2 separate regions of the Homo sapiens genome follow, and region 1 is linked to region 2. A link means that fine-mapping ties the variant in region 2 to the expression of a gene that starts in the linked region. Tissue or cell type: thyroid. Region 2 holds a variant in brackets; the other region holds the start of a gene. All regions are shown on one strand. Distances are from middle to middle.

Region 1 (8,105 bases), 180 kb before region 2:
TGGAATCAGAGTATTACCCGGGTACGTTTTTTGAGCTTGGTAAAGGAAAGATGTCACTGAGGTACTATGCTTCATTTAGATTCTAGAATATCTGCTATATGATTTGTAATGTGGGTATTTTCTCTTTTAGAAGATGTGCTTCGTGCCTAGTTTTTCATCTTCAACATGTTGGCCCTGCTCTTCTTTCAACAGGACAGTTCCAATTAAGAATCTCAGTTTTTCTGCTGTTATAAGAATGTTCCTGTAGGTGGCGCCATTTGCAGCTCTCAGCGTCTCACTAGGTCGGCTTCTTTTTCTTCCCCACGAGCAAGTCCACTTTATTACTTGGCCAGACATCTCTTTCCCAGCTCTTGTAGGATCTGCGATGCTCTTCAGGCTGATTTCTAAAAGGTCTTCTGGGTGACCAGCGTGTGCTTCCTCATACTCTGGGTTAATTTGAATGGCAGCTTAGGGAACTGCTTCTCTTGAACTTTGTTAGCAATCCATTTTCCATACTGTATGTTAGCAACGAGTGTTTCTCATTTTGTATTGTTTATTCTTTGAAACACATGGCCTGTCTCACCAAATAGATTATGAAGCCTTTAAGGGCTTTGTATGCCTCAGGCATCTGGCATAATACACTGCCTGGGACAGGCAGTCTGTAAGTGTGTGTTTGTTGATGATGTAGGTGGTAGCATTCTTTTGTTTATTCATTATTTACTGAGTAGCTGTTCTAGGCTAGGCTCTCTTTCTGGTGCCTTGAAAACAGTTATGAAAAACATGGTCCCCGCTCTCAAGAAGCTCCTAATTCAGAGGGGAAGGGGGCAGAGAGAAAGAGAACACAGAGAATGACAGTAGTATGGTGCATATGAAGCAGCCATGCTAAGTGACTGGGAATAAGAGAGGTACTGTATATTGCCTGTGTCTGATGACCTCTATGGGCCTTTCCTTCCCCAGGAGATCCTTTTAGAAGAGCATGGCCTTTTCATTCTTTGACTGCAGAACCACTCCTTAAGACTAAACTATGCCTTTTACTGTTTTTCTTTGCCAGTCCCCAAAGGACAGGGTGATATGATTGTGGGGTTGGAGATCCATCTCAGGATACCATAGAAAAGGTGACAGTCTTCCTATTTTTCTCTGAAGTTCAATTTTCCTTGGGTATTGCAATTTGCTTTTCAGCTCATTAGTAATTGTCCTTGAATTCTCAAAATGGTTTATCATCTTACTCTCTGTGTGGGGTGACTTGGAATTGCTCATTTACTTTGAGGTGATGTAGGTACCTATTTATTGAAAACCTTTTCATTCTTTAACATGCATGTCAATGCCCCTTTTCCTGCCGTATCTTTTCCAGTTCTCCCCTTCCTTTTTATACCTTTATGTTGTTACTTCCACCCCAAATTTTATACAAATTGATTTTAGTCTTGTATTATAGCTGCTTAGAGCCTCATTATAAGACTATAAGCCTATGGAGGGTAAGGACTGTATTTTATTCATTTTAGTATCTCTCTTATCCTGTACCTTCACCTGTTATTTACACATAGTAGGCAATGAATAAATGCTTGTTGACTGAATGAACTGGGATTTTGTAACATAATCCCTGTTTAGTTGCATGTTTTAGAGTATGTGCTTGTAGAACATGGTCAACTATCAGTTGTTTCTGCATGGGTTCTATTTGTTTGACTTAGTCTCTAGGAATATTTGCTTGGCAAACGCTCTCCAGATAATATGAAAAGGTTTTTGGATAGATCTGGGCTCAGACTTGGAATTTCTTTTCCTGTTTCCTTCTTGACACCCATATATGGCTTTATCACTGTAGAGTGTTGGTTTTTCTTACTTCCTGGTTTCTCCCCAATACTTGAAACATTCTCCTATTGATTCATTGCATCCATTTAAGTATCTAAGTTGCCAGGGAGTGTTCATGATGTTGGGGGGATACAGGGGGGACAAAACAGACTCTGACTCTATAGCCCGCTGAAACAGATGAATTCATCAAATAATAGGACAATTCAGTCAAAACATATTACCTGATAGCCTGATGGCTCATTTTAAAAGACATTTTTAAAAGTCTCAGAGGATCCCTGGGTAGGTAACCAGAGACTTCAAGCTTTCTGTCATTTGGTTTTCCAGTGTTCTGTGTCTCTCCAAAGCTCATATACATACATATATTCGGAGGATGCAAACTTAAAATTTTTTCTTCTGAAGCCACTTTCTATTTTTGCATACTGAATTTCAATCTTTAATTTCTTTAGTCACTTGATTTTAAATTTTAATTTCATAGCAAGTCTAGCTGTTCTCTGTAGGCATTCACATAAAAGGGTTGAGGTTTGCCCTCTCTGCTCTCCAGGGCAAGGTGAAATTTAATTATTTTCTAGGTTTTAAACAGAGAACCTAAAATATATATTTTATATCTTGACTTGCTTGATTTAAATCGTGGTTTAGAGTGTGTGTATGTGTGTGAAACGGTGGAGTAATGGCAAATGAAAGAAAGAAGGAAGTTACACACCTGTTGTCTAAGAACCCTATATGAGTTCTTGATCTGTAGCAAAAGCAGAGTCATGACCGTACCTTACACTCTGGATCAGCAGGTTGCACCAGGGACACTTCAGAGAACACATGAAACGTGAAAAAGCGGTTCTCTTCATAAAAGACAATTTTCTTTGAAGACCTCAGGTTCCTTTAAGGCAGGAAGCAATATGAGTTTCATCTCCTGGGCCTGATTAAACAAGATTATTTTCGTGTGCTATTTATCAGTAGACGATCACAATGAAATGTGCATACGACAGTTTACTGCCTCAATCACATATTGCAAATCAAAAAAACTAGAATGCCGTTTTGCTGGGGCCTCCTTAGTTTCTCTTCTATTTCATTCTTTCCTTTCCTTTTATTCCACATTATTTTACATTTTCCCATAAGTCATCCATAATTCAATCTCAGTCTAGAAGAGTAAATTCGATTACTCGGCGGCTAAACATCGTGTGCCTTCTCAGAAACAAGAGAACTTGTAAAACAAAAACAAAAACAACTTAAAAAAACAAAAACAACCAACAACCACCAAAAAAACAAAGGCATGAAAAGTTGGAACCTATCGGGAGGCTCTTGGAAACTTGGGCAGCTTCCTTTCTCTGTTCAGGATTTAGATTTCTATCTCACGTTACTTTGCGAACAGCTTCGCCTGTGAATCTCCCCCTACACCTCTGGGCACCGGTGCCAATTCCTTCCCTTCCCTTCCCCAGTAGCCCCACACAGTATAGAGGAGCTTATTTTCTAAGACTGCACCGGTGTCAGAGGTGACGTGAGAGTTTCTAACCGAATGGCGTTTTAGAAATAGGAACGGGAAACACAGAAACGGCTGAGGAGCGACCCCGTGGAGCAGACAGGCACAGCCCGGGAGCGGCGGACGCCAGCGCCGGCGCCGCAGGGAGCGCGTGCGGGGCTCCGCGGGGCCGCCTCCCGCGACTTCAGCAGGGGCCGCGGCCGCGCTCCCGGGCCGGTGGGCTGAGGCAGGCAGAGGCCGCCATATTCCTGTCTCACCACGCCCGGCCGGACGGCAGCCGCAGGTCGGCTGCGGCCCTGGCACGCAACGGCGGCCGCCGGCTCGGGCTGCGCGTCGGCGGCCGGGTCTGGCCCCGACTTCGGCCGGGGGCGGCCGTGACTGCTGCGCCCGCGGACTCTGCCGAGGGTGCGGGAGCAGTAGGCGTCCGCAGAGCCCGCGGGGGCCGGCCCAGCCCGGGAGCCGCGCGGGCGAGGCGAGAGCCGCACTGGGAGGCGCGCCGCGGCGGCCGCGAGCCCAGGAAAGCCTTCCAGGAGGGGCCGGGCGGCACCGCCTCCCGGCTCCCTCCTCCCGCGCCCATCCCCTCCGCCTCTTCCTCCTCCTCCTTTCGCCGCCGCCTCCTCCCTCCCGGATCTGTGCTCCAGTTCAGAGAAAGAAGAAAATGTGTGTGTGTGGCGAGGGGGAGGGCTCGCACTGAGCAGCCGCTCCGCGCCTGGCAATCGGGGCAGGGGGTGGGCGTCTGGCGGGGGCGGGGGCGGAGGCGGAGGCGGAGGAGCGCGCGGTTGCCGGGCGGGACGGGAACCGGGTCTGCGCGCGAGCCGGGCGGTGGGCGCGGACAGGGCCGAGGGCGCCCGGGAGCCGTGTCAGGCGGCGGCGAGGAGCGGGCGCGCCGGGCGCGGGGAGCCGTCGGCGGCCGCTCGCTGCGGGGACACCCCGGTGAATGAGCTCTCGCCGCCAGGCGCACGGCGTAGGGGAGCCTCGCAGGCGGCGGCGGCGGCGGCGGCTCGGGGGGCGAGGCGGGCCGCCTGTTCCCGGGGAAGGAGGCGCGGGCGTCTGAGCGAGGCCGGGCGCGGCGGCCTTCTCTCACGCGCCCCCCGAGCCAGCGCCCGCCTCCCGCGCCCGCCTCTCTTCTCCCGTCGGCCCAGACTATCCGCTCCCACCGCGCCCCCGGCCCACCTGGTGGCCCCGGCCCTGGCCGCCGCCCCCGCGGCGGTTCCCGGAGCTCGTCCCGGACGCGCGCCCGGGCGGCGGGGGCTCGGCGGCCACCGCTGCCTCGGGGGAGCGAGGGCGGGAGGGTGTGTGTGCGCGCTGTGAGCAGGGGGTGCCGGCGGGGCTGCAGCGGAGGCACTTTGGAAGAATGACTCTGGAGTCCATCATGGCGTGCTGCCTGAGCGAGGAGGCCAAGGAAGCCCGGCGGATCAACGACGAGATCGAGCGGCAGCTCCGCAGGGACAAGCGGGACGCCCGCCGGGAGCTCAAGCTGCTGCTGCTCGGTGAGTACCGTCCGGGGCCCCGCCGGGCCTCTGCGCCCCCAGCCCACCATCCTTGGCCCTGCGGGGCAGCTGCCTTCGGCGCCCCCGCCCCCCGGCGCCCGCGGTTCGCCCCTACCCTCCCGGGCGCGCCCCCGGCCACTGCCTTCACCCGCGCGGGCGCGCGGGCGCGTTACACACAGACACACACACACACACACACACACACACACACAGCGACACACACACGCAGCACAGGGGTCGGGGCTGCCCTGCCCGGTGCCTTGGCTTGTTCCTTTTCGTGTCCCTGAGGGCTGTACCTTATCTGCTGTGCATCTGCTAAATGGCAGATCACTCCGACCAGAGGCGCGGGGGTGGAAAGGTGGGCAGAGGGGTTGAACTTCCAGTGTCGTGGCCGCGGCACCCCATGGGGTGGTGGCGTGGGGAGCCGTGTGTGTGGCCCAGCGGGTGGCGAGCGGAGCCGGGGCACGTTGGGGGATGGCCTGCGGTGGAGTGGCCGGTGTGCATCCATTATCAGTGCCCTATGGGGTCAGGAGGGAATGGGGGAACGGTGGGCAGACTCGCAGCTGGATTCCCGGAGCACTCATGGTGAGGAAGCCAAGTGGTTGGCCCTCCAAGGAAAGGGTCTGTGTACTGGGGGCGAGGCGGGAGGGCAAGCCCAAATGTGTCACACAAGTGCTGTTCTCTAGCCACCAGACCATCGAAAGGAGGGAGCCTAGAAGAGTTGGCCAGTGGATGGTGACAGGCGTTATTCTCGTCTGCACCATTCCTTCTAGATAAAGATGAGGGTAGGGGAGCGTTGTGCTGTGTGGTTGTTGACAGCGACCGGTATCTTTTGTTTAATGAGGCAACCTAGATGTAGGCCTCAGTTCACAATAGTTACTACCGAAAACCAGTGCAGTCTCTCAGTTACTCTCTTGGCAACAAATAGAAACCTTTTGTTTAAAACAGATAGCATTTTAATGTCTTTGGAATCTGGGCGAGAAGGAAAAACGGGAAGCATACAGGAAAAATTTCCCTCTAGTCTTGAAAAAAAAATTCTGCTTCAACACTAAGTTAGCAAGAAAATGCCATTTCTCAAATAGAAATTTATTGATGATTATCTCTGGGAGGATGTTCAGAATCAAGCGATCAGGGTTCATATACAAGCCACAGTGACAGAACCCTGAGCTACTGTGGCAGGAAGAGCAAACAGCTTTGCAGTAACGGGCCTGAAAAATGTCTGCACTTGTGTTCTGGGTATTTGCATGTATAATAAATGTGTTTCTCAAACATTTCTGTAAGAAAAGAATATTGTACTGTTAGTTGGTGTTTGTGAGAAGCATGCATTTTCTTTCTTATCTTGAGCATTCCATTTGCTGGCTCAAGGAACCAATTGCCTTTGGGAATGAACTGCTTATGTACTGGATCATTTACAAGCAGGAACAAAATATACTGATCACACACATAGTTACTAATAGTTAATTCCCATGACATGCTTTCTTTATGTCTTCATTTTGAAACTCAATTAGATAAATGTGCACATGTTTATAAAAAGCAGAAGGCAAAAGCACTGGATGAAAGAGTTGGGCTTAGGGGAATGAAGCCAGGGAGGAGGCAAACTGCAATTGGAAAGTAAAGATTTTTTTTTTTTTAATTCTCATTTTGAGCTACTTCTAGTGGCTGAAAACAGGCAGTTGAATGTTTTCTGAGTTCTCAAGGTTGAGAAGAAAATAAAGAACAAAAGAAATAAGAGTGTTTTAAGTGTATAATTAAGGGGAAACGCACGTATTTTAGAGAGACTTGTTTTAAGAATTGTGTTTTTTTTTTATTTTATTGCCCTGTTGACAGTCTTTGTTTCTGTTTAATTGTGAACTGGGCAGTTGAGGTCTCTCCAGCCAACCCTATTTGCCTGAAAAGTGACAGCTCTGAGTTTCCCAGCAGCTAAGAGTTAAAGCCCAGGGAGTTTCTCAGTGGGCCTAGGTTTGAATGTCTAAGGGAAATACACTTACATGGATGCTTAATTCCATACTGTGTATTTAAATAACACTGTGCTTTTAAAAATGAACTTGGAGATAATTTTCTGAGAAAAAGTGTAAACCAATTTTACTGCTAAAGTGGTGGTAGTGTGGAGAACTTTTTTTTCCTCTTATTAGCGGAACATCATGCAAGAATTGCTACTGCTTCATGTTCTTGGTATATTGCTTTTGCAACATGAATACTACAATACTTACACTATTTCTGTAGTAATATACGCTAAATGTGGATTTGTGCGTGCGTGTATGTGTATGAGTGTGATTTCAGGAGTTTTTGAATCCAGGACGGTTGATTTCAACAAGGAAGATATTAGGGAGGGATTTCATTTGAGGAATTCCTGATTCGCTGCTTTGATGAGTACACTGAATGTTCTGGTTCCTTCTATCATTTAAACAAACCTATCTAGAGGAGATTATAAGATGTATCCATTCACAGTTTAAAGATCTACTAATATTTTTAACTAGTTTATGGAGGAATAAGTATTTTGAAATGAAAATCAATGTAAAATTGTTTTCAAAGTAAATTTTAGTTCAAGGCTTGATACCATTTTAATGGAAGAGGATTTGTTTGACAGGGATAAAAGTGGGTACCCTTGCATTTGCTCATGTAATTATTTACTTTTGTGTATTAATAATATGGAGACATTTAAAAAGACAATTAGTGGGTACCTGACTAGATGAAAGTATGGCAGTAAAATTTGGGCTATGTTGATTTATATTCGGCAACTATGCCAGTCTTCCAAATTTATTCCGTATGCTTATATATTATATATTTTTATTTTAACTTTAGAAACGTGAACCCTGAAATCTACCACTATAAGAATATTACATTAAATTTTGAATTATTTTCTTGTTGTCTTTTAACTTATTCATTCTTTGAATTCATTTATGTTAGTGTTTGACACTCAAAACTTACTCTTTGTATTCTATGTAGATATACAAGAGCATACTTCATTTTAACTTGGTTAATGTTTTTATATATTTTGTAGGTATAAAGCACATATTTTCTTTAATTGATTAATTTTCATGAATATTCACTAAATATTTCTGTTGGTGGTACATAGATAACCTCATTTAATATAATTTGTAAGTCTGTGTAATACAAGTGGCCTTGAGTGCCTGCTTCATGTTACATATAGTTATCCTGAAATTTTTTTCAGTTCCTAGAAGAAACATTTTTTTCCTGTTAACCTGTTCTTATTTTACACGTTTTTGAAGTCTTTTACTCTTTAGATCTTAATTATCAAATAGGAAGACTTAGTAAACCCCTTTAATTGATTGAATTATCGCTATTGAAACAGGCAAAGTTTAGGCCAGTCTTTTTTTTTTTTTTTTTGAGATGGAGTTTTG
Region 2 (8,108 bases):
CATAGCCAGCCTCATATTTTACTGCATTCTGTATGGCTGATGCTAGTCTAAAGGTACTTTAAAATACCATGTTAAAATCTTGGCTTCCATTGAAAAGCTGCTGTTATGCAGTCTGTCCAAATCTATAAACAAATGAACATCCTGAATGGAGCTAATTTTCTTGAGCTTCAGATCTTCTTACAACTCCGGGTCTTATGGTTACCAGGGCTTAGAGTTGGTGTGTTTAAGTTGAAAGGCAACCGTTGTTTCTTTACTTTAAAGCAAAAATTCCAATTTACGCTAATGGAGATAATTCTTTTTAAATCATATTTTCAGGTTTCATACTGATGGCTTACTAAGCTTCATATGCTTTTTACTATACATAGTGTATCCAAACAGATATGTGGATCTAAATGTAGGATTGATTTAATGAAATTATTAAATTTATCATTATTTCACATCTATCTCCTTCTGTAGTTAAAGCAAAACAAATCCATTAAGGGAGTGAATAGGATAATTCTTCTAAATGTACTGTAAGAATATACTTTCATTAGCTCTTCGTTTCTGGGTTTCATTTTGTTATTCATCAGCAGAGTATGAGGTGTTACAATTACGTTATAGAATAGTACTGGAAAGAATAGAGTTCTTGCATTCAAAGGAGACCAGAGAAAATTTCCAGGAGTTAGCATTTAGAGCAGGTATTGGTACTCCCACAGGCGATGTGAAATTGGGGGTGTCAACATGGGAAGATCATTTTAGGTAGGAACAGGCAGGACTCTGCTCCTGTGTTTGATGTGTTAGGCAAAGAAGTAAAAACAGTCCAAGAAGCTGACATTTATAGCTAGTGTGATGGGGCCTAAGTATGGAGATGGAAAGACACGAATGGAAATAGGAAAGTACAGAGGCACCAACGGAAGGAGTGAGTTGAGGTGAGGTGCCTTCAGGCCATTACAAAACTCAAGTGCTTTGAAGAGGGCCTGAGTTAGGGAAGGAAGAGACTTGGCTGTTAGTTGTGTACAGGTGATAGCTGCAGCTCAGAGAATGGCCAAGATGGTCAGTGGGCTAATATGGAGAAGTAGTGGGCTGGGCATGGAATTCTGGCAGATGATTGCACGTGGGATCAGTAAAAGGAAAGAAAGAGCCAAGCAGAGAAAGGAAGCATGGCTGGAGAGGCTGGTGGAGAACTAGGCAGCATTTCCAAGAAGAAGGGGGTGACTGATGGCGTCAGACACTACAGAGGAGGGTGAAGACTGAGAAGAAGCCACACGTAGGCTTTTGGAGACCTCTGAAAGAGTTGTTTCCATGTCCACTGAGAGCAGAAGATTGATTGAGAGAGGGTGATTAAGGGAATAGGGAGAAGTAAAGACAACAACTTACGATCTGGCAGTGAAATGAAGGTAGTAGTGGTCACTCTAAATGGTTGAGGGGGGCTGATTGGGGCAACAGAAAACCCTCCCTTCTTTGATTCACTCATTCCTATGGATTTAGAGCAATGGTCTTCAACTAGGTCAGACTACGTATTGTATTGAAAAGATCTCCCAGGTTATGTGGTCAAAGTCCTGTCTCTGCGTTGGAATCCCAGTGCTGGAGGATAAAGCACAGAACCCACACTGCTGCTGGGTCTGGAGACTCAATCTCATGATTGTGCCAGTGCTGAAAACCATCTCCTGCCCTGAAATCCTAGATACTCCTCATGCCAGGGTTGGGGTGAGCAGAGAGAGCTGCTGTGGAAAGCAGGAAGGGGAGATTGAAAAGCATGGTTTGTAATGGAAATGCTGCAGTAACTTTCCTACTTGGTACTTGCTCTCATCCATGGACGCTTTGTAAATCAGGGACTGGAACAAACAGAGCTGACAGCTCTGTTTAAAAAAGCTTTTGGGGAGTTTGTAAGGAAATAAAAAGAAGCCTGATGCTATGTGAAACATGTGACCTCAATTCAGAACTGGAAAAAAAAAAAAACCTTTATTGCCTTCTCAAAATGTTTTACCTATAAATTGTTTTTTCATTAAGGTAAACAGGAGAAAAGAAAATGGCCTTGAAAAAAAAAAGAGTATAAAAGTCTTCCCTCTTATTATTAACAGGCATTAACATTCAGAGTAGAAATTTAGGTAGACTCTTTCCTCCCTTTCCTGTCTTCCTTTCTCTCCTTCCCCTCCTTCCCTCCTTCCCCTCCTTCCCTCCTTCCCCCCTTTCCGTCCTTCCTTTTCTTCCCCACCTTCCTCTCCTTTCCTTCCCTACCCTTCTCTTTTCTACCCTTCCTTCCTTCCTTCCTTCCCTCCCTCCCTCCCTTCCTTCTTCCCTTCCTTCCTTCTTCCCTTCCTTCTTTCCTGTGTCTCTTCCTCTCTTCCTCTCTTTCCCTTCCTTCCCTTCCTGTTCCCTCCCCATCCTTTTAGATTGGAATACAGTGTGTACTACATATGATCTGGATCCCTGCAAGTTAAACAAAGATCTAGATAAGAAGTGTAATGTTAAAAATGGTATTTCAGGGAGCTGTACACCGCTGATCTTAACAAAGCTAAGAGATGTAGGTCGAGTTCTAGATGCCTGTTGAAAGTGATTGAATTTCACAACAGAGTAATCCATGTTTGGTAAAGAAATGGGCCCGCGGTTGCAAGATGCTAATACCAACGGTGATGAAGAGAATCTGGTCAATTCCATGTTTGGGTTTTTCACCCACTTGAGCCTTGACAGGTTTGAATTTCACTCTGCTGCCTTGCCTAGCATGTCTTGCTGAACCTCTCAGCCTTGCTGTAGTTTTAGAGGTGATGGTGATTAGAATGCTAAGAAAGTCAGCTCACTGTTTTCCTTGAGGAAGAGGAGGGCATGGTGACAGAGGGAATTTGGAAGAGAGTGGGTCCAGATGGCACTAACACCTCTTGGTTTCACAGACTATTTCCACCCTCTTTACAAATTCCCTTTCAGCTAAACAAACAAATATTTAAGAGAACTGCTGGTACCAGGTCATGTTAAATATTTCTCTTACTTATTTCATGATACTGCTTTGCAAGGTTAAACAATGAAAAGTAATAACGGCTTAATACAGCCTAACTCATTTTTCCTGGATGAATCATTAATTTCCTGCTAAACAGATGCATTTAGAAAGTATGCACAGTATATATTATAAAAATAATTTTAAAGTAATTACTTACAAAGAAGTTTCCTTAAATTTGCTAGGTAGTCTTTCTCAGTCTTTTCTCTTCTGCTATAGTCATGTTGAAATTCTGAAGTTCGGGGCAAGGCTTAGTCTCCTTAAGAGGATCTCCATCAGAAAAGAATCACTTAGATGTTACCTGCTGCCAATTGTAAACTATTGTGTATGAAATACTGAT[A/G]TTATTCACTTACTCTAGAAGAAAGTCCTAGTTTCCCCAGTTTATTAAAAAGTTGAGTTAATCCATGTGTAATAGTTAAAAACACATCCACCCCATGCCTTCCTTCCTATAGAAATATATATATATTTTGAAATTTTCCAATTCTTTCTATATACAATACATCAATCATTTGCATATAAAATGTTCATCTCCCCTGCTCTGGGGTATTGCACTTGGCTTTCATAGGAACCAGCTAAGTCTGAAATCACAAGATGGAGAACCTAGATACTTTTCAGTTCCTCCAGAGTTAGAGAATCACTTACAGGGTAAACACACCCATAAATCAGCCTGTACCCCCATCAGTCAGATAATGAAAGTATTTGTGTAGGCCCAAGAATGCCTTTCATTGAAAAGCCAGCACTACCCATGCCAAAATATAAAACACATGTAAATGATGTGTAGATTATTATTCATTCAGCAAATAGTTGGTAAGCAAGATCTATGAGCTGAGCCTAATGTCAGCAGTTTAGCTATAGTCTGTGTTATGTTCCTTATTCTCTTGACTAGAAGGTTTATTGTGTTATGTATATCTATAGATACATATACATTAACCAAAGTGTGTATAAAATATAAGAACTAAATTAAAATATTTTCAATGAAATTATAAAATAACAATAGATGCTCCTGTTAGAGTCACTTTTTTGGTTATATTATAGCCAGTCATGACTTTTATAGCAAATGGCAGAGGGCTTTTTTTTTTGAGAGTTCATTTTATTGCATTTTTATTGGTAGGTAGTGAAACTGACTTTCACTAGGAAATTAAATCTCAGCATCTTTGCCTTGAAATACTTTAATAGATTAACATGAGTGATGGCATTTGTTTTCTTGCTGTGGGTAATCATATTTATTTCTGCATGTTTAATTACGGGGTTTTTATTCCATCATAGACATGGGCTGTGTTTTCATATAAAACAGACCTTATTTCAAAGAGCTCAAAGAGGGCGAAAAAAAGATGACATAATTGGGCTAGTAATATAGATATACCATGCAAAATCAAAGTATAAACCTGCAAAGTCATTTTTTGGGGAACTGCGATTTAAAACACAGCTTATATCTCTAGCCAGGAAGCCACAGGTTCTTTCGTTTGCTTTTATTGATTTTTATTTTTTACAAGGGACTTTAAAAAAAATAACTGCTCGTTGGCCTTTAACTAGGATCTCTGCCTTTCTTTTAATTTATTTATATCCTCTGTAATTACTTTTCCTTTCTTTATCCTAATTTTTCTTGATTCTGCTGCATTACACCAATTTTCATGTCTCCTCTTGTTTCCCTTCTAAATTTTCATTTATGTTTTCAGATAAATTTATTCACTATGATGTCATCTGACCATTCTTGTGATGCAAGGTAGTGCAATTTCTTTAAGGCTTGAAACAAGGGCACACTAGGGCACACTATTGATACTGTCATATGTTGCCACTGACGTCATTTCTGGGGTAAGAGACAGTTGTAACCAGTAAAATATCTGCAGAGCTTTATTAAATATTCTCTTCTCCTACTTTTGAAGTGCCCATTTCCCAGAAAGACTGGTTATTTGTTCTTTGAAAATGTAAGCTTTTTTCAATTAAACTTTTCCATTCCACACGAAACCCTGAACTTCTAGGTGAGCAAATCTTATTGTAATTATCCTCTCTTCATAGAAAAGCAGGATCGATACCATTGTCCTGCATAGCATGCCAACCTATAAATTATACTGTCTGTCCTTTGGTCCCTGTAGATTGCATTAGGTACACTGCTCCAGCAGAGTTTGAACTTTGTGGTTGTGCTGGTTATAGTATATGGAGAGAGGAAATAAGCTTGCCTTGGCCTTAGCTTCTTAAACGGCATTCACACGTTTGTTTATGAATGAGTAGGGCAGACCAGGGCAGAGAAAATAAGGCATTTGTACATCTTGCTGATTTGTTTCTGGCTTCAGGGGCCATTTAAAGAGAAAGAGTAAGCATGAACAGACCAAACCTGAAGCAATTAATGAGCAGATAACTTCCCAAGCATGAGCATCACTGCCACTTAACCTGTGTTTAGTCTTGCCCCATGACAAATCTTTCCTGTTTTCCTTCCTTTTTAACATTTCCTGACAATAGCACATATTTTCAGAATTTTGATTTTGAAATTGATGTGACCTATAATTCCTAAACAGTAAGTAGGGGTATCAGTTGCATTAGGTCAAACCTCAAAGTTGATCAATTCTTATTTCTCATAAGACATTGTTCTTTAGCCATTGTATCTTTAATAGTCTTTTAAACACATTCATCTCTGGGCTAAAAATGCTTTTTAAAAAAACCAAAAAGAGTACTTTTCTAGAAGCAAACTTCATAGTCCTCTATATTATGTACTTATGGATCTTCATGTTAGAGTTATAAAAATATACAGGATGTAAGAGAGGCATGTGACCCATATGAAATAATGGATCTATATTTGGGTTGTAGGATAAAAATCAGAGGTTCTTCCAACTTAGGATCAAAAATAGTTTGAGCCCCTAACTCATTTTTTCCTATAGCAGTGGCTTGTCATCATATCAACAGATTTCAGGAACCTCTGTCCTCTCGCCTGGAGGCACTCCAAAATTCATTTAGGTGGTTTATGTAATAGTGGAACGATTCTTAGAAATGGGACAGGGTGGATATAAGGTAATTGCTTTTTTTTCCTGATGAAATAGTGCCTGTGGGTTTTTTTTTTTTTTTTTTTTTTTTTTGGTAGTAATTTCACAAAGATCCTAAATTGAAATCCGCTGGAATAATAGGACACACAGGAGTAGCCGCTGTTCTCTATTACGTACAGCATGGCTGTATCTGTGACCTGTGGTTGTGCATATTGTAGGTTTATTTTTCACACTGCCAGTTAAGATTTCCCAGAGTTTGACACAAAATCTACAATCACTGAGCCTCTACTGATATATTTGTATTGTCCGGAAGGCTGTCGAGTTCTTAGTCAAGAGAATGGCTTCCATGGTTTTCTTTCATAGTGAATGGTTTTGGAAATAAAATTTTATGCTCATACTTACTGAGGTCAGAATCCTGAAATTTCGTCCAGTGGTATAAATAATAATAATATGTCACAAGGTATATTAACCATTTGCCTTGTACTAGGCCCTGTTACTACTATTTATATACATCATTTCATGTAGCCCTGTAACATCCCTTTGAGATAACTACTCTTATATCCTTATTTTCAGATGAGGAACTAAGAAGTTAAAAATATGCCCAAAGAGCCACATAGTAGCATTAACTCCAGCTCAGAGCTGACTCTTGACAGCTGCCAACAAATTCTCTTTGTTCTTCTGGGTGGAAGACCATGAAACAGGAAAATATTAATAACATGTAGTGTACTGCTTTCTAAAATTTTCTTCCCGTTATCATAGTTTGGTTGGTAACAATTCTTACCCACTTTTATCTGTCTCTTTTCCTTTTCTAAAATACTATCCATTTTTATAGAAAGAGACAAAGGAAAAATGTATGTTCTTTTCTCCATCTGGACGTTCTTGAAGGTTTATGCTGAGAGAACCATTATTCTGTAGTGTGCCTTACCACTGACAGCCTGGGTGTATATTCTTCAGCCTATTTTGTTTGTTTCTCCGCTGGAAAAATGAAGATGAAATCACTGTGCCTTGCTATCAAAGTAGGGATGAAGGAGTAATGTCCTTCATAATTACAGACAGTATAATTATAAATAATAGGCCATGGATATAACTGTAAATATGAAAATGTGAGGTTTCCTCATGAGATACTGAGTGATCTCAGCAGCCTGCAAAAGGTGATATGTGTCAAAGGACATAAAACAGTAGGAGGAGAAAGAGCACTGAGCGATCACGTAGTCCCAAAGTTAGCAGGGATGCTTTCGGGGAGGCATACCTGGAAAGAGGATGTAAATTCACCTTGCTGTGAAGGACTGGAGGAGCCAACCTTTTCAATCCTGTGGCTAGTGGAGGGTCTTGAGTGTGCCTTTGGGGCATGAAAGCCAGGAGGAAGCACACCCTGTTTAGCAGATGTGTGGCTTCAGGGCCTTGGCAGGCAGAACAGGTTGATTATGCATTGCCATGGTTATTCTGCCACTGAACAGTTATACTCCAGCACCCTTCTTCATTGCTCTGCCAAAGCACTTATGCCTTGGAGCTCTGAGTCCAGGCACAGAAGGGACTGTCCTAAGTGAGTGAAGTGGTCAGGACGTCACTGCAGGCACTGAGAATTTATTAAAATGAGGATGAGGCAGAATGGAGAGTTTTATTCTCTGTATTTGTGAGAGCTTTCTTCCGATGCAAGAAGGAAACCCCATCTAGTTTCATGAAAACATGAGCCTTGCCTAACCGACTTGGCTGCAGGCAAACCAACCCTGCCCCTGTGTTTTGAAATTTGGGCTCTTTCCTCTTTCATGTTCTTTTTCATCAAGTGTGAACTCCTGATTCTATGTCAGCAGTTGATCCCCATTACAAATAATCTTCAGCAGAATCTTGTTTTCCATATCCTATTGACTTTGGCACCTGCTCTGTTTACTTAAGCACTCAATTGATAAGAACTGGAATCTTTGCTGATTTTTACCTAAAGCTAGAAAAGAAAACCTTTCAAGCCAGCAAAAATAACCTTCCTCTGAAAAAATACATCAAAGGAGTGGTGCCAGCTCAGTTGGTATTAGGTTGTGCATTGCATGGGTTGGAAACGATGGACTGTAAAGAAAAGGGGTCTTTGCAGCAGGCAGAAGTAAAGCAACAACAATTAAAGTAAACAGAGCAAACTTTCCATGACATGCTGCTACCAGCATTTGTAATAACCC

What was found. PIP is the estimated chance that this variant, and not a neighbour inherited with it, causes the effect.
Region 1: it holds the start of GNAQ, and the variant in region 2 is fine-mapped to the expression of GNAQ in thyroid (GTEx, PIP above 0.99).

The regions. Positions count from the first base shown.
Region 1 is chr9:78,027,738-78,035,842 of GRCh38, reverse strand. It overlaps GNAQ (G protein subunit alpha q), which reads left to right and starts at 4,032. Exons shown (of 7, transcript NM_002072.5): 1 at 4,032-4,743. The coding sequence starts at 4,608. RefSeq lists an enhancer at 3,949-4,843.
Region 2 is chr9:77,851,703-77,859,810 of GRCh38, reverse strand. The region is part of intron 2 of GNAQ (G protein subunit alpha q); the gene reads left to right. Among named protein-coding and RNA genes, the nearest start is that of GNAQ, 180 kb to the left of the region's middle. RefSeq lists a silencer at 3,492-3,692. The variant A/G (reference allele first, on the strand shown) is at 3,309.